3 linked regions of the Homo sapiens genome follow. The main gene of each other region encodes a partner of the protein of the gene in region 3 in a complex. Each region holds a gene or a part of one and is shown on either strand. Other genes may lie near its edges.

What was found.
Region 1: the proteins of INTS2 (region 3) and INTS6 are in contact, whole or in part, in a cryo-EM structure (PDB 8RBZ), measured with the Homo sapiens proteins. Residues at the interface, in NP_065799.2 of Homo sapiens: Ile855, Asp856, Pro857, Leu858, His895, Arg923, Glu925, Leu926, Lys927, Ala929, Leu930, Ala932, Ala933, Gln934, Ser936, Ala937, Gln940, Ile941, Glu944, Asn1010, Lys1013, Leu1014, Phe1017, Gln1018, Gly1019, Tyr1020, Pro1021, Ile1046, Ala1047, Gln1048; in NP_036273.1 of Homo sapiens: Ile484, Val486, Arg487, Ser488, Arg489, Phe527, Gln528, Val529, Ala530, Leu531, Leu532, Asn533, Phe541, Arg542, Asn543, Ala544, Tyr545, Ile547, Arg549, Leu552, Leu553, Leu556, Met559, Arg560, Asn562, Leu563, Leu564, Lys565.
Region 2: the proteins of INTS2 (region 3) and INTS1 are in contact, whole or in part, in a cryo-EM structure (PDB 8RC4), measured with the Homo sapiens proteins. Residues at the interface, in NP_065799.2 of Homo sapiens: Pro40, Leu54, Lys69, Leu72, Arg73, Leu75, Ser76, Gly77, Val78, Glu79, Val81, Asn82, Val85, Gly125, Thr127, Leu128, Glu131, His132, Glu166, Val172, Tyr173, Glu176, Arg322, Gln325, Gln326, Arg329, Gly400, Lys402, Thr769, Met772; in NP_001073922.2 of Homo sapiens: Gly561, Ile562, Ala563, Trp564, Asp565, Lys566, Gly567, Ser982, His1055, Met1056, Thr1058, Pro1060, Glu1095, Arg1096, Thr1098, Ile1099, His1102, Leu1107, Arg1225, Ser1250, Phe1251, Gly1252, Ile1253, Tyr1285, His1288, Glu1291, Val1292, Gln1293, Glu1295, Arg1296.

What each region holds. Positions count from the first base shown.
Region 1 is NC_000013.11:51,361,058-51,366,038, forward strand, and holds the end of INTS6 (integrator complex subunit 6), read right to left. Parts: intron 4,789-4,981; coding exon 4,695-4,788; 3' UTR 3,226-4,694; coding exon of another isoform or gene 3,182-3,225; 3' UTR 941-3,181; coding exon of another isoform or gene 753-940; 3' UTR 520-752; downstream 1-519. Other genes in the region: SERPINE3 (serpin E3 isoform 2 precursor), read left to right, coding at 221-307, 753-940. UniProt on the Homo sapiens protein: Component of the integrator complex, a multiprotein complex that terminates RNA polymerase II (Pol II) transcription in the promoter-proximal region of genes.
Region 2 is NC_000007.14:1,501,371-1,509,228, forward strand, and holds the start of INTS1 (integrator complex subunit 1), read right to left. Parts: upstream 3,020-7,858; 5' UTR 2,953-3,019; intron 2,632-2,952; 5' UTR 2,591-2,631; coding exon 2,533-2,590; intron 1,822-2,532; coding exon 1,531-1,821; intron 1-1,530. UniProt on the Homo sapiens protein: Component of the integrator complex, a multiprotein complex that terminates RNA polymerase II (Pol II) transcription in the promoter-proximal region of genes.
Region 3 is NC_000017.11:61,924,983-61,932,933, forward strand, and holds the start of INTS2 (integrator complex subunit 2), read right to left. Parts: upstream 3,001-7,951; 5' UTR 2,959-3,000; coding exon of another isoform or gene 2,953-2,958; 5' UTR 2,672-2,952; intron 1,681-2,671; coding exon of another isoform or gene 1,663-1,680; coding exon 1,370-1,662; intron 118-1,369; coding exon 1-117. UniProt on the Homo sapiens protein: Component of the integrator complex, a multiprotein complex that terminates RNA polymerase II (Pol II) transcription in the promoter-proximal region of genes.

The DNA.
Region 1 (4,981 bases), on a different chromosome or scaffold from region 3:
AAATTAAAGTTTGGTAACATATTGAGTCTTAAGAATTTTCCAAACAGCTACCTGAGCCTCCAGTAAAAACAAAAACAGAATTTTCCACTCTTTCCCTAGCTACACAGTAAGCAGCATTGGATACTATAAATTTTGTAAGTACATTTTTAAAGAATGTGTTCTAAATGTGTTAGAAAAATGTTAATGAGCAACTCACATTTTTATCATTTTCTGTGGTTAGGCCAAGATGGCTTTTATGTTTCTGAAGCAATCCACAAGGCCAAGATTGAAGTTTTGGAGGAAGGCACCAAGGCATCTGGAGCCACAGGTATGTTCAGAGAATACCCAGTCACACTGCTTACCCATATCTACCTTTCTGAAATTTACCTAGTTGAATCTTCACACTTCTGAATCTTTCCATAACCCCCAAGTTCAGGTGTGGTGTAGTATTTTTTAAAAAGGAACACTAAAGAAAACAAAAAGTTTTTGAAAAATGACGGGGAAGAAGAGATATCCATCCCATAAAAATAATTCTGAAAGTTACCTTCAATAAGGAATTTATTCCATGGAATGTGTTGAAAACAGGAGACAGGATTGGCTAAATGGCATCTTTTCTCTTTAATTTTCCCATCTGCACCCCCATCACAACAGTAAACAATCAAATGCCATTAGGATGCTTTGATTTCTTAAAAAATTAACTTACTTCATAACCAATAGTTATTTTCTTAAAAATGCACAGAAAATGCAATGGAATTTTTCTTTCTTTCCTGCAGCTCTGTTGTTATTGAAAAGGTCTCGGATTCCTATTTTTAAAGCAGATCGGCCATTCATCTATTTCCTGAGAGAACCTAACACAGGTATTACAGTATTTTTTGACAGGATTCAGATAATTTATCAGTGTCTCTCTAGCAACAAGGGCTCATTTGTCCACTATCCCCTCAAAAATAAGCATTCTTTCTAGCTGTTTTTATGGTGCTTCAGAAGCTACCCAGTTGCTATCTTCTATCCTAAGAAAGGGGACTATTTCGTAAGTACAAAGGAAACTTATCCTCCATGTTTTTTACCTTCTCATTCTCTCAGCTCATATATAGTTAATGTAGATTTTTTTTTTTAATGCTATAGGTTTCTACTTCTGAAGACACTTGGAAAAATCATGAAAGTAAAATAAATTATAAATCTTGCCCTTTTTTCCCTTTGTCCCCTAGCTTTCTTATCATTTTAGAGTTTTTTCAGGTCACTAGAGTACACCAGAGTAGTCCTCTTGTGATCCTAGTATTCTAATGAATGCACCTGGATTTCTATACTGTTCTGTTGATCTTTCTCAAAAATCAAATGTTTGCCCTAGTACTTTTAAGTCCTACTACATAACCTTATGGTAATCCAAAGATGGTGTGGTACCGGCAAAGCCTCAGTACATCAGAAGGACACACAAATATTCTTAGGCTTCGACAATATTGAACAAAGTCTTTAGATTATTTCTCTTAATGTTCTTCCTCCCCCACTCACAATTACTTAGCCTAGGAAGGAAAAGAGATTCTCAGTTAAGAGTTGTTGGCAAGTCTAAACAGTGTATTAAAAAGAAATAGGATAGAACAAGACTAATAAAATCAAGCAAAGGTGGATCTACTTTAACTAAACATCAGGCATTACTTTTATTTATGGAGAAAAATGTCAAAAGTTAGAATGAAAATTATGCATAGTTTTACATAAATTGTTAAGGAAATACTGTCAACATCATTTTATCTGAGAATCATTTGCATCCTGCTGTACCTTGTGCTAGAAATCAAAGGAACATTTTTGTGACGAGAAAGATATAAACCATTCACTAGAAAATAATCTATTTGGGATTATTTGGAGAGAAAAAGTCCATCAACAGAGTATGTCTTCCTAGTATTTCACCATGATCATCCCAACCACATAACGATTAGATGAAAATATCACTTATCACCCAGAACAGGCGGCAGAGAGCCTTCTCTTAGAAAGGACACGTCAAAAAAATGAAAGATGAGAAAAAGGACAGGTTCTACTCCCTAAGGAAACAAAGAGACAGGACTACATTTGAACAGAAAGGTCATTGCCAAAAGCCAATAGCCAATAAAGGTTGATAGGTAAAAGAGAGATTCTGATTTTGGAATTCAAGTGCATAAAAATGATGTAAAATCCTTAAACAAGGAAAAGACACACCACTATTTCAATGGTAGGAGTTTTCAGAACTGCCTCAGTAATCAGAATGAAAATATAAGGATAATCCAAAACCAGTTCCACAATCCACTGGAATTCTAATAGTCCTTGTGACTTTACCTCTATCTGGGAGGCATTAGCCTACATCACACAACACAGTGGCTGCTCTTCTGGTGATGGTTATGGAAGAGTTTAGAAATGAGTCTCAGCCTTCATTATTTCCAACTGACAAATCTTACTAAGAGCAACTAATGAATCAATCAGCAAATGAGAAACATGGGAGACATTAAAAAAAAAGATTTGAAAACCTCAAGATTAAACTTTCCAAGAATATCATTTGTCGAGCCTTAAGTCATTCAGTGACATAAAGGGCCTAAAAGACATGATGTTTCCCCTAGATGTATTTCCCTTCCCCTTTGACAATAATTCTACAACAAGTATTCTAATTTAACTAATATACCCATTTTTTTTTTAAATGAAAAAAGCCTGAGGGAGATGAGATATTAACCTTTAGTTCTGATAGGTTTCAAACCCTCCTGACCAGGTTTTAGGATGAGGTGAGAACAGTGGCAGAGAGATAAAGGACAAAAAGAAGAGATGAACAAAACTGCTACTTCTCACCTCCCTCCAGGGTTCATTCAGAAAAATGTATTAAAGGTCATGAGCAATCTGTGAAACAGAAAATAAAACTTTCTGATAAGGAAAGCTGCTCAATATTGGGATGGGCTGAATCTCTTTCCTAGATACTCTTGTTAAGTATGAATTTTTATCTGAATGACTTCTAATTCCTCCTAGTAATTCCAGAATCTAAATATATATAATTTAGGAACAGACAATATATTCTGGATTTTGTGTAACTCTCAATGAATTTAGCAATGTGACTACAGGCAATTACCTTAACAATTCCATCTATTAAATGTTATCTTGCATTACTTAAAAGTATTTGTATAGAAGTAAACAAAGCTTAAAGAACTGCATATGAAAATACTATATAATATTAAATTCTTCTTTTTCTTGACAGGGTTTGTCTTCAGTATTGGGAGAGTTTCAAATCCCCTAGACTAAATGCATGTTCTCCACTTTCATCAATGCTTTTCTTCATAAAGTTATAATTTCATTTTGCTATACCCTTGAAATTTAAAAAAATGTCTGATAAAGTGTAAAAAGCTAAGGGTATGTGATTTTCAATATTATAAACCTAAAAATACTTCAGTTTTTAAATGTTATAAGTTTATTTTGCCTACTCTTAATCCAAATCTATTTTGACCTTCTTTTCTACTGCTTACCCCCCAAACCACTAAAAGGCACAGCAGTGATCATGAATGGTGAGTGAGTCAGGCCATAAGATTGCTTCCTCAGTACGGATACTCTAGGCCATGTTGAATTGAGGGTGGAGAATGAATAGCGTGGTTTTCCTTATCCTGTGAAACTCAGGGGGGATGCAAAATGAGCAAAGTCATCTTAAAGGTGTTTCCTTTCCATTTAGCTTATAAATAAAACAGAGTTTAAGTGTGAGAACAGCAGAGCAGAACAAGGAGGCCTCCAATTTGTTGTGGGCTTTTGCAAGCATGGCATGAAGCTGCTAAAGGCTAGATATTTCAGAGCATGTACTGTACTCCAAACCTACCACTCCCTAACAGCTTCAGCTTCGTGCCATCCACAATCCTAGTGATAAAGGAAAAGGTGTTGAAGTAAGGAAACCAATAATATCCAAAGTTGTTTGCTTTTTAAATAGCTTTTAAAGTATCTGTCTATCTGCCCCATACAAAGTCATTCCCATAATCTAGGCAGAAATGGGAGTATGTTGGCATGGCCAACAAAAACTACGAACATATAGTAAAAAGGCAATGCAGATTATGTAACATGTAATTACAGTTAGGCTTAACAAACATGAACTTCAAGTGGTGTATTTTTCCAATGCTAAAAAGCAAGGCCTTTAAAATTCCATTATCTTAGGATGTTTTTAAATGATTACTTTAAATGTGATTATTTCCTAAACCACACAAGAGTAAAATAGAGCATTTATTGATGGAATAACAAAAGTGCTTTTCTTAAATATTCTTCAAAATACATTTGTACAACTTACAATAATATATCCAAAATAACTGTATATACAAAACATTACCTAGTTTTAATGTATGTGCTTTTTTCCCCAAAAATTACAAAGTAACTTCTTTTTTTTTTGGCAAAGTTCAACCTTAACAGAGGTGACAATTTTAAAGGTTGGTTTAAGAAAATAGAACCTGAGGGAAATTGACACGCAAGAGTCAATGACAAGCAAGAGATTTGGAGGAATATTTTTAGTTTGTTAAATTAAAAATGTTTTTTAGAGTGATACTTTTCACATTACAAAAATAAACCAAAATGAAGAAAAGGTCACTGTAAAATGATGGAAAAAGGATCTGTAGATTTGCTTTTAGTATTTCAAATAGCCAACAATGCATGTCAGAAAATGAATGCAAGATCACAACAGTCTTGTATTTACTTTGTATTTGAAGAAGATAGTGAAATAAGTGGCCACATTCTATTTTCTTTTAATTGCTATTAATATGGTTGATCTGATTGGCTCTTCGATGAATTTCATCCAAGAAGTTCTCCAGTTGTTCTATTAGCATTCGTTTTTTAAACCTGTATGAAAAAATAAATAGTACTCTCAATTACTTTTTAATGAATAGTATATATCAGTATAATTTTTTTAAGAAAGGAGAGAAAATTTTGGGAAGATTTTTCAAAGTGAAATGAAAATAGAAAAATCAATACTACGACAATATAAAATATGTTGAAAGATTAGCAAATTATTATCCTAGTACAGTATTATAGT
Region 2 (7,858 bases), on a different chromosome or scaffold from region 3:
TAACTGCGCCCGGGACAGAGACTTGGAATAAATTTCCTGATGCCGAGACAAGCTGGGGGACAAGTGGGCTGCCAGCATGGAGGGACAGCCTGGGACATTTACCACAAATGGCTGGATGCAGCCATCTCTCTGTTTTGCTGAGAATAATACTATAAAGTGATCTACCACTCAGAATACGCTTTTCATAACCACGTCTCCTCTCATCTTCAAAACCTCCTTTCTACAGGAGGTAGTGCTAAAGATAAATAAAGCACCGAGCCGCCGGCGGCCGAGAGCCCGGGCCAGGATGAGGCCTGTGGTCTCTGTCTTCAATCCCCACCGGCACCAGCTGCCCAGGGACACGCCTCATGGGAGGTCTGAGGCTCGACCTCCTAAAGCAGTCCCCCAGCTGTGCCATCCTGGGCCGTTTGCCCCCAGGGCTCCCTGATGCCAACTGAGTCCAGCACAAACACTGCCCACAGCGCCCAGCCTCAGCTCTCATGAGCGTGTGCTGCCCAGGCCAGGCCAGGCCTCCATTCCCTGGGCACAGTCCATTCTCTGCTTGGCATCTCCCTTTCCTGCCTGCCCCGGTTTCATCGCCTGTGCTTCCAGGCCCAAGCCCATACTGCAACTCCCTGCCAGGCCTCCTCCCTTCCAGGGCCGTCGGGGACTCACTCACAGGCTTGCACTGCAGCAGCCTGGTCCCTCCCTGAGGGCAAGGCCACAGCCCACAAGTCCCCTGGGTCCTGTCTGGCACAAAACTCAGTAACCAGAGGTGGCGCGGCTTGAACAGACACCTCACTACCAAAGTCATCAGGACACTTGTTCTTTTTGACTCCTACAAAGAAATTACCCAAAAGAGATGCTCCCACAGAAACAAAACACTGCAGACCATGAGGCTTGCTGGGGCTGGTGCGATAGCTGCCAGAGCGACTCCCAGGGAGTCACGGAGCCTTGAGAAATGGTCGTTGGGAAAATGGCGCAGAGGGGCAGGGGCGATTCTAGGCACACAGTTAAAGGCATTTCTGCGAGAACGGGACAGTGGTGAAGCTTACATTCCCCCGTTGATGTCCTTACTGTTCTGCTGCTTTTCAACTGAAAACAGGGAGGGGATCAACTCTTCTCTGTTGGTAACCAGGAGGGAAGGAGGAACCAAGTACACATCGCCTCCGCTCAGGTTGAGAGAGGAACGCACCAGGATGGGCAACCTTGAGAACAGACACCTGGGGTGTCGTCACGCCCGGTTTACCCCCAGGGCTCAGACAGTGCCCGTCACAAAGGGGGCGTCCAACAGACACATGAGACAAACAACTCAATAAGGGAGTGACCCGGTTCTCAAAGGGCAGCCACTGGCAGTGCAGGACGCAGATGCACACACGGGATAAGGGCATCTACGTGAGAAGCACTTCCAAGAACAAGCCACAAACATCCGCTCTCCCAAAGGACCTCGGCCATACGGGCAGCACTAGGCCTGGAGGGGGCCTTCCCTGAACACCTGATGGACGGCATGAGCTGAGGGGTGTTCTCGGGGGATGTCCACAGACTCATTACCTTCAATTGGCACCACAGATGGCTCTTTAATCGACGGAGAAATGGCTCGTTTTTCTGCCACTGCAGCCTCAGCCAGGCGCCCCAGGGCACTCAGAGGGGGTGTGGAGGAGAGTTTGGGGCGTTTGGTGAGACCGGTGAGGGCCGAGGCACTGGACAACGCGGCCGCCGCATCCCGCTTGCGCTCAGAAGGCAGGCCGGAAGGGGCTGGCTTCAGCAGGGTGGACGCCGTTTTCGATTCATTGGCCTGACCCTTTGAGCCCAGAGCAATGAAGTCTCCTGGGGGAGGGTGCCCTGCAGAGAAAGGAGAGAGAAAACCGGGCACATTTGCAACACCCAAGATGGAAAAAGACTGACTCTAACCTCCTGTTATGTCAGAGGGGATTAAACAAGGGTCAGAGGAGGCAAGGAAGAAGCCAGAGCTCACTCAGCAGCCTACAGCAGAGCTGGGACCAGCAGGATACGCACAGGTGATGGTGGACAGTCACGTAGCGCTAACCACAAACCAGGCCATCTCTGGTCTATCCAAATTAGTGTGCTTAGTAACCCCCGCCCCGAGTTTCCGCAATAGGTGCTATTACTCTAACTTTACAAGAGAGAAAGGGACACAGAGAGGTTAAGCGACGTGCCCAGCGTCACACAGCAGGCGAGTGGCAAAGTCCGGAGGATCTGAGCCGACAGTTCAGCCGCAGACCCCGTGCTACGCTACACTGTGCTGCCTCCCGCCTCCTGGCTGGGGAGACCTTCCGCTACTGTCGGCCGCCTTGCAGCTCAGCCTGAAACGAGATCACCGGGGTCCCGAAGGAAGTCGCCACTGTCCCAAGCCTCCCAGGGACTCTCAGAGCCGCTGAGGACCGAGAGCAGTGTTTCCAGACCGAATTCCTGGAAACAGCCGCGGCTGCGGAACAACCAAGCCCAACGCAGGATCCGCGGCAGCTGAGATCCCCAAAGACCCCCAAAGACCCCCAAAGACCCCCGGGCTGCAGAGCGAGGAGGGAGACGCACCTGAGGGTTTGGCCGCGGCGCTGGGCCGGCGCACCGTGGTGGGCTTGGCCCGGTTCATCCTGCCCCGTCCCTCGCGGCTCCCGGCGGCTGCGGCGTCACCTGCGGAGGAGCCAGCGTGCGGTCATTCCTTCACTCATTCGCTCGTTCGCTCGCTCATTCGCTCCCTTGCCGCACGGGGCTTGGGCCTGGGACCCGGGGACAGTGGTCCCGCGCCCGCCCGGCGGGGCGATGCTGCAGGAGCTGCAGGGACCCCGCCTCCCAGCCGCCCGGGAGCGGCTCAGTCGGGCGGCAGCAGGCGACGCGGACGCCGGGCTGGAGGCGGCAGAACCAGAAGGGACGGCCCAGAGGCCGGGAGCGGTAGCCGGGAGAACCAGGCGCTCGCCCGGCAATGAGGAAGCGCCCAGGCCGCGGCTCACTTACCTCTGGCCCATCGCGACCGGAGCGCCGCCGCCGCCACCCGGCCACCCCGGAATCGGAAACCGATCTCACCGCCCTCGAGGACCCGACTTCCGGAACAACCGGAAGGAAAACAGTGCGGCGGGAAGCGGGCCCAGAAGGAGGCGCGAGAGGCCCGCGGCGCCGGCCTGATGCCTGCAGCGCCCCATGGCGGCGGGAGGCGGGCTGGCCGGCGCCGCGCGCATGTGGTCCGGTCCAGGTGGGTCGGCGGCGCGGGGCAGGCGCTGGCCTCTCCATTCACAGGTGGTGCTGGCGTTGCGAAGGGACGCACTCCAGGACGCACGGCGGGGAGGAGTGGCGTCAGGGATCCGCGGATGAGTCAAGTGGCAGGTTCTGCACGTCCCGGAGAGCGGGGGCGGCCGGGGCGCAGGCACTGGCGAGGGGGCGCAGCCCGGGGGGCTCCCGGGGAGAGACCCTGTCTCAAATAATAATAATAATAATAATAATAGCTTTATTGAGATAGAACTCGTGTTCCACAAAGTTCACCCTTTTCTTTTTTCTTTTTTTTTTTGGCACGGAGTCTCGCTCTGTCGCCCAGGCTGGAATGCAGTGGCGCGACCTCGGCTTATTGCAACCTCCACCTCCCAGGTTCAAGCGATTCTCCTGCCTCAGTCTCCCGAGTAGCTGGGATTACAGGCGCCCGCCACCATGTCTGGCTAATTTTTTTGTGTTTTTAGTAGAGACGGGGTTTCACCATGTTGGCCAGGCTGGTCTCGAACTCCTGACCTCAGGTGGTCCGCCCGCCTTGGCCTCCCAAAGTGCTGGAATTACTGCGCCCGCCCCGCCCCCACGCCTTTTTTTTTTTTTTTTTAATGGAAACACTGATGGGAACAAAACTCAAAAGACACAAAAGATCATACAGTTGCCAGGTGTGATGCTCATGCCTGTAATCTCAGCACTTTGGGAGACCAAGGCAGGAGGATCGGTTGAGTTCGAGACCAGCCTGAGCAACATAGCAAGACCCCCATCTCTACAAAAAAATAAAAATTAGCTGGGCATGGTGGCATGAACCTCTAATCCCAGCCCTTTGGGAGGCCAAAGTGGGAGTCTGAGACCAGCCTGGGCAACATAGTGAGACCCTATCTCTACAAACAAAAATCAAGAATAAATTAGCCAGGCATGGTGGTGCATGCCTACGGTCCCAGCTACTGAGGAGGCTGAGGTAGGAGGATCTCTTCAGCTTGGGAGGTCAAGGCTGCAGTAAGCTATGATGGTGCCACTACGCTGCAGCCGGCCGACAGAGCGAGACCCTGTCTAAAAAAAAATAAAAATAAAAGGTGGGGGAATCATCCAGTCAAAGGGTCGAAGGTCTCCCCTGACCCCTGAGCAGCTGGTCCCCTCCCCTGGAGTCAGCCTGTGTTCTGATTTGTGCCTGTGTTCCCGGCTTTTCCGTGTGCGTTCAGGCAGCCACCCGTGTGCCTCCCTCTGCCTTGTCACCCTGCAGGTAGCGCACGGCTCCTCTTTTCTGCACCTGGCTTTTGCCACTTAACCACATCTTGGAGATCTGTTCCCAGCAGGGCACTGACTCGAACGCTGCCCCGCCACCGAGGGAGTCCTGAGCACCGCCTGCCCGGTGTGTCCCATCTCCTCATCCAGGGACCGCAAGGCAGAGCTGGTCTCCCTGTGCCCCTGAAGTTGGGTGTGGCCATTTGACTGTGGCCTCAGTGAGGCTCATGGCCCCAGGCTGCAGCCTGAGAACTGCTGTGTGACCCGCCACGGTCTCTTTCCACTCCTGTGGGCACCAGCTGGGTCCCCGCAGGACCCCAAGGGCTCCAGGGCCCTGCACCCTGCGCTGTGTGGGCAGCGAGTCCGGAAGGAGACGTCCGTGGTGCCCATGGGAGGAGAGGCCGGTCAGGCGCGGATCCCTGCCGGACGCCAGGCGGGGGCTGTGCGGCTTCATCCCTCTACAGTTTCTCAATCTGTCCCTCAGGGTAACTCTCTAAGGGGAGGGGAGATCCGATGGGGTAATGCTTCCTCCTCCTGTCACCTGAATGGGAGCACCCTGCACAGAGCTTCCTCTGCCCCGCCACCTGCCTCTCCTCATCCTCTGACCAGCATCACCGCCCCTGCATGCGGGGCCTGTGCCTTCGGCAAATGCCCTCACCCGGGCCCAGGCCAGAACCTCAGGGTCGACCTTGAGAACAACTACCTCCTCCTCCCCCTCCCCCTCCCCCTCCCCCTCCTCCTCCCCCTCCTCCCCTTCCTTCTTCTCCCCCTCCTCCCCCTCCCCCCTCCTCTCCTCCTCCCCCTCCCCCTCCCCTCCTTCCCCTCCCCCTCCTCCCCCTCCCCCCTCCCCTTCGTTCCCCTTCTTCTCCTCCTCCCCCTCCTCCCCTCCTCCCCCTCCTCCTCCTCCTCCTCCTCCTCCTCCTGTCAACCTTGACCACCTCTTCCCCCTTCTCTCTCCTCCTGCTCCTCGTCTTCCTCGTTCTCTAAAAACTCAGGAGTCAACCTTGACCACCTCCTCCTCCCTCTTCTCTTTCTCCTCCGTCTCCTTCCCCTCTTCCTCTTCCTCCCCCTCCTCTACCTCTTTGCCTTCCTCCTCCCTCTCCCCGCCTCTTTTTGAAAACAGCTTTTTTGAGTTATGATTGACGTCTGATAAACTGCAGGTGTGTAAAGGGTGTAAAGGGTGCACACTGATGCGTGTTGACATTCACACGTACCTGTGGCCCCATCCCCCATCCCTTTCAACCCTGTAACGAACATTCCCAAACCACCCCTGACTTGTCCCCAGGCCGCCAGGGCGCCACTTTCTGTCCCTGGAGAGGCGCTGTTTGCTCTTCTGGAGTCTGTGTGAATGAAAGCACACAGTGCACGCTCCCTGGCCAGCTGCTCGGCGTCATTATTCTTTTTTTTTTTTTGAGATGGAATCTCGTTCTGTCACCCAGGCTGGAGTGCAGTGGCGCGATCTCCGTTCACTGCAACCTCTGCCTCCTGGGTTCACGCCATTCTCCTGCCTCAGCCTCCCGAGTAGCTGGGACTACAGGCGCTGGCCACCACGCCCGGCTAATTTTTTTTTTTTTTTGTATTTTTAGTAGAGGCGGGATTTCACCGTGTTAGCCACAACGGTCTTGATCTCCTGACCTCGTGATCCTCCCGCCTCGGCTTCCCAAAGTGCTGGGATTACAGGCGTGAGCCACCGCGCCCGGCCTGGCATCATTATTCTGAGACTTACCCCAGCGTTGCAGGCATCGGTGGCTTCTGTCAGCTGCTGAGTAGCACCCGCCAGATGGATTCCAGATTCCAAGGATGGCTTCTCCACTGATGGCCCGGGCAGGACCACAGGCGTTCCGTCATCCTGGGGGGGTGTGCAGGGTCTGCCCTGTGCTCTTCATCGGCGTCTCCCTGATGAGTAATGATGAGCGTTTTCTCATCTTTTTTTGTCATCCGTGTATCTGCATTATTGGTGTCTGTTCAAATTGTTTGCTCACTTTTTGAAAATATTTTTTATGGCCAGGCGCGATGGCTCACGCCTGTAATCCCAGCACTTTGGGAAGCCGAGGCGGGTGGATCACCTGAGGTCAGGAGTTCAAGACCAGCCTGCCCAACATGGTGGAACCCGGTCTCTACAAAAATACAAAAATTAGCCGGGCATGGTAGCAGACACCTGTAATCCAGCTACTTGGGAGGCTGAGGCAGGAGAATCACTTGAACGTGGGAGGCGGAGGTTGCAGTGAACCAAGATCATGCCATTGCCCTCCAGCCTGGGCGACAAGAGTGAGACTCTGTCTCAAAAAAAAAAAAATTATTAGAAATTTAATTTTTAGGCCGGGTGCCGTGGCTTTTAATCCCAGCACTTTGGGAGGCTGAGGCAGGCGGATCACCTGAGATCAGGAGTTTGAGACCAGCTTGGCCAACATAGTAAACCCCATGTCTACTAAAAATACAAAAATTAGCCAGGCGTGGTGGCGGGTGCCTTTAGTCCCAGCTACTTGGGAGGCTGAGGCAGGAGAATCACTTGAACCCAGGAGGTGGAGGTGGCAGTGAGCCAAGATCGTACCACTGCACTCCAGTCTGGCCAACAGAGCGAGATTCCATCTCAAAAAAAACAAAAAAACAAAAAGATATAATCAAATGTTCCTCCCCTGCTCAGAATTCTCCAAAGACTCTGCTTATCACCCGAACAGTAAAATGAACACCTGTGGTTGTTTCCCACAGCAGCTCTTAACAAAGCACCACAGACTCGGTGGCTTAAAGCCACAGAAATGTCCTCTCTTGCAGTTCTGGAGCCCAGAAGTCTGAAGTCAAAGTGTGGGCAGGGCTGACTCCCTCGGAGGGCTCTAGGGGAGGACGCTGCCTACCTCGACCAGCTCCTGGGGACTCCAGGGGTCCTCGGCTCGTGGCCACATCCCTCCAGCCTCTGCCTCTGACTCCATGTGGCCGTCTTCTCTCTGTGTCTCTGTGCCTCGTGAGGACATCTGTTAAGGGATTTAGGGCCCACCCAGATCAAGGATGATCTCATCTCAAGATCTTTACCTTCATTAGGCCTGTGCGGTGGCTCACGCCTGTCATCCCAGCACTTGGGGAGGTTGAGGCGGGCGGATTGCTTGAGGTCAGGAGTTCGAGACCAGCCTGGCCAACATGGCGAAACCTTGCCTTTACTAAAAATAGAAAAAAATTATCCAAGGCCGGGCGCAGTGGCTCACACCTGTAATCCCAGCACTTTGGGAGGCTGAGGCGGGCGGATCACGAGGTCAGGAGATCGAGACCATCCTGGATAACACAGTGAAACCCCATCTCTACTAAAAATACAAAAAAATAGCCGGGCGTGGTGGCAGGTGCCTGTAGTCCCAGCTACTCCGGAGGCTGAGGCACGAGAATCACTTGAACCTGAGAGATGGAGGCTGCAGCGAGCCAAGATCGCACCATTGCA
Region 3 (7,951 bases):
TCACTAAGCACAAGACGCAATCGACGAGGTGAATCACTGTGTTCAAACTCTAACGTCAGTCCATGCTGAAGCTGTGATACCAGGATGCTCTCTCCACTGCCTCCTCCAAGTTTATGCCTAATGAAGTACAAAACATGTAACAATTATGAAAACACTGATATGGAAATAATTGCATAAAAATTATCTTTTATTGAAATAAGCTATAAAAGGATGTATAAAGTGTTCTAAAATGTTCTGTTACTTCTGAAATGCTATTTAGTTTGCCTGTGTATTTCAGGGATTCACATCCTACGTATAATAAATACTCCACCACATAGGCCAGGCACAGTGGCTCACGCCGGTAATCCCAGTACTTTGGGAGGCTGAGGCAGGTGGATCACAAGGTTGGGAGTTCGAGACCAGCCTGGCCAATATGGTGAAACCTCGTCTCTACTAATAATACAAAAAAGCCGGGCATGGTGGCGCGTGCCTGTAGTCCCATCTACTCGGGAGACTGAGGCAGAAGAATCACTTGAACCCAGGAGGTGGAGGTTGCAGTGAGCCGAGATCACGCCACCGCACTCCAGCCTGGGCAACAGGGCAAGACTCGGTCTAAAAAAAAATAAAAATAAAAATAAATAAATAAATACTCTACCACAACTGACAATTAACACTCACTTCCACTGATGGTGGCTTGCTACTAGATTCACAATGGGCAGGGAAGGACATAGCACCTGCCCAGAATCTTTGGGAATATCTAAGCTTTAAAAGCCTCCCAAGAGGCTGGGCCCAGTGGCTCACACTTGTAATCCCAGCACTTTGGGAGGCCAAGGCAGGTGGATCACCTGAGGCCAGGAGTTGGAGACCAGCCTGGCCAACATGATGAAACCCCATCTCTACTAAAAATACAAAAAATTAGCCGGGCATGGTGGCAGGTGCCTGTAATCCCAGCTACTCGGGAGGCTGAGGCAGGAGGATCGCTTGAACCTGGGAGGCTGAGGTTGCAGTGAGCCAAGATCACGCCATTGCACTCCAGCCTGGGCAACAAGAGCGAAACTCTGTCTCAAAAAAGAAAAAAAAAAGCCTCCCAAGTGATTCCAATAAATCCCTCTAATCTAGGGGAAGTTACCCTACCTACTTCCCACTGAAAGTAATTGGCCTAATGAGTTTAGCCCACATACAACAGCACATTGCCATATTTCTCTAGATAACATTTTATAACATGGAAGTCAAAAGATTCTGGAACTGTAACTATATACAGAAAAGACCTAAGTAAAATGCTCTCCAGAATTTAGATTCTCATTCTCTCTTTTCTGGAGAGCTCTAAAAAATATCTGATTCCCTGTTCTTTGTCAAATCCAAATCCACATATAATATAACATAACATTACCTAAGCTGCTGTTCTTTGCTGGCATCTTGTTCTAAAGCATGAAAGTCCACGGACAACAATGCAACAATGGAGTTGACAGCTTCCACTCCAGAAAGAAGGCGAAGGATGAGTTTCTTATCCTGAGCCCAGCTTTGGCTCTGGTCAGCAGGTGCACAAAGTGCCATCCGTACCAAACAGGGCAGAAGAAGTCTTAATTCTGGATCACTTAAAGATGCCAGGCAAACAACATCCACCTTCTGCATTGCCTCAAAAGCAAAAGGGCTGACAAACTGAAGACTTGTACATTCAGTCATTATTACTGTTTGTTGATCCTAATGGTAAAAATACAAATGAAAGTAGGAGTTTAACTTTCACATGTATGAACACCCAACTTTCTAAAAACCCTGAAAAATGTGGTGTATCTTTAATAGGTCCCTATGTTGGCAATGTTCCTGGCACAATCAAGACAAGGCTTCTCTGTCTCCCTAGGTTTATACTGTCACCTGGGAAATGGGAAAGAAAACAGAGTATATTAATGTCTCTTCCAGCCTCAGGAATCTTCTGCTCTAATACTCATATTTTACAAAGAAGGAATATGAAGCCCAGAGAGATGAAGTAACACGCCCAAAATAGTATTACTAGTTAGAGGCACAATCCAAGGCTGAATCCTCATCTACTAAAATCCCAGTCCAAGACTTTCTCCACTATATCAGTCACATGAGCTCCACAAAATGTAAACAAAAGTGAATGGTCATAGTTAAGTGCTTTCTTTCATACCCCGATAGTTTCACATGCCTACCCCGATATACATCAAGAACTATTGGGCTTCTCTTTCTCACCCTCCATGAGTCGGTGGAAAAACTAGCAAATCACTGGGCAGAACCAATGCCAGATTCAAGGCTCTGGAGGCCACAACACTATCCTATGTCCCCTGTGTTACCGGGTAAAAAGCAGATGTGTGGGTGCTATGTGAGAAAGACGCGTCTCATTAGCGCACTTCTCTGTCTCCAGGAATCATCCAAGGCACAAAAAGTAAACAAAAAGGCAGTGAGCTGGCAGCCAAAGCAGTCCCCTCTCAAGGCCGACCGACTAGCAGCAGCGTGGGTAAAAGTCGTGGGTAAAAACTGCTTTGCTTTCAGGGAGGGGCTGCTCTTTTAACAGAGGGGCGGGCTGACTGGAGCAGAGGAGCCAAGACCTGCGTGCTCCTCCGTCTCGCCCCGGGCGCAACTAGAACCAATAAGTCCCTCAGGCTGAGCAAAGTCTGGCCAGGCTCCGACACGGACCTAGGAACGCGCTGAGGCCAGAGAAGCGGACGCTTCATACCTTAAGATCTACCCTCCAGCCTCACGGAACCGCACACGGACTCCGCGTCCTAGAGGCGGGACGCGGCAGAAATCGAGAGCGCGGTCCGATGTTGGGCCTAGGCGATATCCGGAACCCCAAACCCTAGTTGTGCCTCGAGTCGACTCGGACACCAAGAACTCAGACGCCGGGACCAACCGGGTTGTCGATACAAAGTGGGAAGGATGGGGGCACCACACAAAGGCAGAACCGGGACTGTAGGAACGGAAAAGCGGGAGACTTTTTCAACCTGCACCCAGCACCTTCATTCATCCCCAGCGTCTGACTCCCGTCGGCCACCGTACTGGTCTGAGAGGAAGGGTGGCTGCGAGAGGAAAGGCAGAGACGTCGGCGCCAATGCAACTGTGCGCGTGCGCGGCCCCGCCCCTTTCTCCACTTTATTTGCCCTGCCCTACTTGTTCGCCAAAAATTTAGAAATGTGATTCTGGTAGGCTCTGATTTCCAGAGCCTACCAGCTCCTTCCTTTTAGACAAGCAAGCCACTGAGCCCCTCAGAACTTAAATTTCATCATCACAGGATTGCCATGGCATTCAAATGGCATAACGTGTGTTAAAATCGTTCCCACTATTCTTTGACACTAGTGGTACCAAACTGTACTCTTTAAATCTTTGCCTGTGCCTTCCCAGAACCAAAATTCTAGAATCCCAGGATTTGTGGGAGAATTTTAAAAGTGATCTAACCCCAAACTTTCTTCCGCTCTTGACCTCACACCTCCGCTGTCAGAAGTTAAACACCTTCCTTTCAGGTTCTTAACTTGGGGGACCCATAGAACCTTAGAGAGGCAATGCACGGGGATTCAGGAATTCTCTGGAATCCGTTCAGAACTGAGTGCTCGGCACTTCTTCTGGGAAGAGGGTCCAAAACTTTCAACAACTTCTCAAAGGAAGTCTGATCACTCAGAAAAGAACCACTAGTCTATATATGAAGAACCGCTAGTCCATATGTCTTCATACTATTTATTGTTCCTAGTTCGATCAACGTTTATTTGGCAACTTCTATTTACCAGATATTGTGCTAGGAGCTGGAAATAAAAATATTTTACAAAGATATAGCACTTTATAACCTCTTTAAAAATAAAGTCAGAGCCGGGCGTGGTGTCTCATGCCTGTAATCCCAGCGCTTTGGGAAGCCGAGGCGGGCGGATCACCTGAGGTCAGGAGTTCGAGACCAGCCTGACGCAACATGACTAAACCCCAACTCTACAAAAAATATAAAAATTAGGCCGAGCACGATGGCTCATGCCTGTAATCCTAGCACTTTGGGAGGCCGAGGCAGGCAGATCACGAGGCCAGGAGTTCGAGACCAGCCTGACCAACATGGTGAAACTCCGCCTCTACTAAAAATGCAAAAATTAGCCAGGCGTGGTGGTGTGCGCCTGTAATCTCAGCTACTTGGGAGGCTGAGGCGGGAGCATTGCTTGAACCTGGGAGGCGGAGGTTGTGGTGAGCTGAGATCGTGCCATTGCACTCCAGCCTAGGCAATAAGAGCGAAACTCCGTCTCAAAAAAAAAAAAAAAAAAAAAAAATTACCCCAGCGTGGTGATGGAGCACCTGTAGTCCCAGCTACTTCGGAGGCTGAGACAGGAAAATCACTTGAACCTAGGAGGCAGATGTTTCAGTGAGCAGAGATCATGCCACCGCACTCCAGCCTGGGCAACAGAGCCAGACTCCATCTCAAAAATATATATATATATATGACTTTCAACATAGATCAGCAAAGGAAGAAAAGAATTGTGTGTTGCAATGCTTCTGAAAATTTTTTCCACCTGACCCACAATAATACATTTCACATTGTGACCCAGAAAAAACATATGTATATATCCACATACAAAAATAAGTGTAAGTGTATAAATTTATATGCTATATAAACATATAAATATATAACATATAAACCCACATTTACATGGAAACAAATATTTCGTATAATAACACACACACTACATGTTTCTACTTCTCTTTAAAAAACTGCTGGTCACTGCACACTAAAACTGATTTCACACTCTATTAATGGGTTGCACACTGTACTGTCCTAGCATTTTTAAGCTAATATTTGGGATTTATTTATTGAACACTTGCTAGGCACTGTAATAAATGCTTTATATATATTATCTGATTCAATCTTGTGACGTAGGTAATATTCGCCTTTTGCAATTGTGGAAACTGAGAGAGGGTAAGCAATTTCATCTCCATGGATGGTCATTTCACAGGAAAAGTGTGAAGGCAGTGCAAACATTGGTTTGAGGGACGAATGAGAGGAAGATGTGGGTATGAACTAAGTGATTTTAAAGATCCTTTCCAACTCTAATTATGATCCTCTGTTCACTAATGGAGAAACATCATGCAGATTCAGTATCTCCATCTTGATCTATGGAGAAACAGAAAAATCACTGAATGAGATGGCTGCAGTGTCACATAATGAGTGCTGACACTTCCTCCAAGTCCCCCTCTCCTTTTCTTCCAGTTCACCAACTTGACCTTGAGTTGCTCAAGCCAGAAACCTAAAAGTCATCCTAGACTCTAATCTCTCCCCCTTGTATTAATTTAGCAAAAATCTTTATAATCATTGAAACATTGTAATGTTTGCCAATAAAACTTTTTTTTTTTTGAGACAGAGTCTCGTTCTGTTGCCCAAGCTGGAGTGCAGTGGCACGATCTCGGCTCACTACAACCTCTGCCTCCCAAGCTGAAGCAATCCTCCCACCTCAGCCTCCTGAGTAGCTGGGACAATAGGTGTGCACCACCACACTTGGCTAATTTTTTTTTTTTTTTTTTTGAGACAGAGTCTCGCTGTGTCACCCAGGCTGGAGTGCAGTGGTGCGATCTTGGCTCACTGCAACCTCCGCCTCCCAGGGTCAAGCGATTCTCCTGCCTCAGCCTCCTGAGTAGGTGGGATTACAGGTGCCTGCCACCATGCCTGGCTAATTTTTTGTATTTTTAGTAGAGACAGGGTTTCACCATGTTGGCCAGGCTGGTCTCAAACTCCTGACCTCAGCTGATCCACCCACCTTGGCCTCCCAAAATGCTGGGATTTCAGGCATGAGTCCCTGTACCCAGCCTCTCTTTTTTTTTCCTTTTCGACACAAGTTCTCAAGAAAAGAGCGGCAGTGCAGTTGGGCGATCTTGGCTCACTACAACCTCAACCTCCTGGGCTCAGGTGATCCTCCCACTTCAGCCTCCCAAGTAACTGAGACTATGGTCATGCATCACCACACCTGGCTAATTTTTCTATTTTTTTGTAGAGACAGGGTTTCATTATGTGGCCAGGCTGGTCTTGAACTCCTGGACTCAAGCCATCTGTCCCCCCTCAGTCCACCAAAGTGCTAGGATTACAGGTGCAAGCCACTGCACCTGGCTTGACCAGCTTGCTTTTATTCTTCTACTTTATTTTTCAATCAGACTGGAGGAAGAGAGAAACACAAGTAATGAAAAAATGAGAAAAACAGAAAAACACATTAGAATATCTATTATGTTTCATGTATACTAGGTGCTTAATGTAGGTTGCAGAGTAATTGAGCTTCCAGCAGTTAGAAGACCTAACTATACAAAGGTGAGGACCAATGTCCTTCAGAAATAGTCATAGAATTCCAGAAGCACAAGGATCTCAGAAGACATCTAGCTCCATTTTGCTCAACATGATGCTCTTTATAGTGTGACTATTTTATCTTGTAAGATGTCTTTCAGGAGGGCACGATGGCTCATGCCTGTAATCCCAGCACTTTGGGAGGCCGAGGCGGGTGGATCACGAGGTCAGGAGTTCTAGACCAGCCTGGCCAATATGATGAAACCCTGTCTCTACTAAAAATACAAAAATTAGTTGGGTGTGGTGGTGTGCACCTGTAGTCCCAGCTGCTTGGGAGGCTGAGGCAGGAGAATCGCTTGAACCCGAGAGGTGGAGGTTGCATTGAGCCGAGATTGCGCCACTGCACTCTAGCCTGGGCAACAGAGTGAGACTCCATCTCAAAAAATATATATATTCTTTCATGTTTCAGCCTGTAAAGATCTTTGACTCTTTTACACTGGCTATCTGTTTTAGCTTAGCAGATCATATCTTCATTAATATTATGGATAAAACATTGAATAGAATTGGGTCCAGCCAAGACTTCTAGTTCAGCATTAGAGACATCCCTCCAGGTTGACATAGCTCCACCAATCAAGGCTCAAGTATGAGACTGTTTTATAAATCAGCCCAACTACTAAAACACTACCCTGCTTTGGGATAAAGTTGAATTTCTTTAGGATGGAACTAAAAAGACAGATTGATTGATTATATTTTTTTGAGACAGAGTCTCGCTCTGTCACCCTGGATGGAGTGCAGTGGCTCAATCTTGGCTCACTGCAACCTCCGCCTCCCAGGTTCAAGCAATTCTCCTGCCTCAACCTCCCAAGTAGCTGGGATTACAGGCACCTGCCACCATGCCCAACTAAATTTTTGTGTATTTTTAGGAGAGACGGGGTTTCACCATGTTGGCCGGGCTTGTGTCAGTCTCCTGACCTCAAGTGATCTGCACGGCTTGGCCTCCCAAAGTGCTGAGATTACAGGCGTGAGCCACTGTGCCAAGCCCTAAGACAGATTTTTTTTTTTTGAGGTGGAGTCTCAGTCTGTCGCCCAGGTTGGAGTGCAGTGGCACAATCTCAGCTCATTGCAACCTCTGCCTCTTGGGTTCAAGCGATTCTCCTGCCTCAGCCTCCTGCGTAACTGGGATTACAGGCACCCACCACCATGCCTGGCTAAATTTTTTGGGGTATTTTCAGTAGAGATGGGTTTTCACCATGTTGACCAGGCTGGTCTCAAACTCTTGACCTCAGGTGATTTGCCCACCTCAGCCTCCCAAAGTGCTGAGATTACAGGCTTGAGCCACTGCGCCCAACCCAAAAACAGATTTTTATGGTCTGACTTAAAACTCTAGCTTGGAGTCCTGCCGTATCCCACCATGGTGTCATTTTAGTCAGTTGGAACTGTTTATGTCTCAAATCCTTCTCAATATTCTTGGACCTTCTCATCACAGTTCCTCCTGTCTAGAATGCTTTTCATTCTCTTTTTTAATGCAAACTCCTAAGTGTCCTTTAAGTCTCACCTCCAGTGTTCCCTTGCTAAGAGACCTTTCCCTGACAAACCACCTACCCTTTAACTTATCAGGTATCCCTATTCTATGCTCTCAAGGCACCTTTTGCTTCTTTCAGCTATACTACTTAACACATTATATTGTAATTGTTAGAACTTCTCTGTCTCTCCCACTAAAAA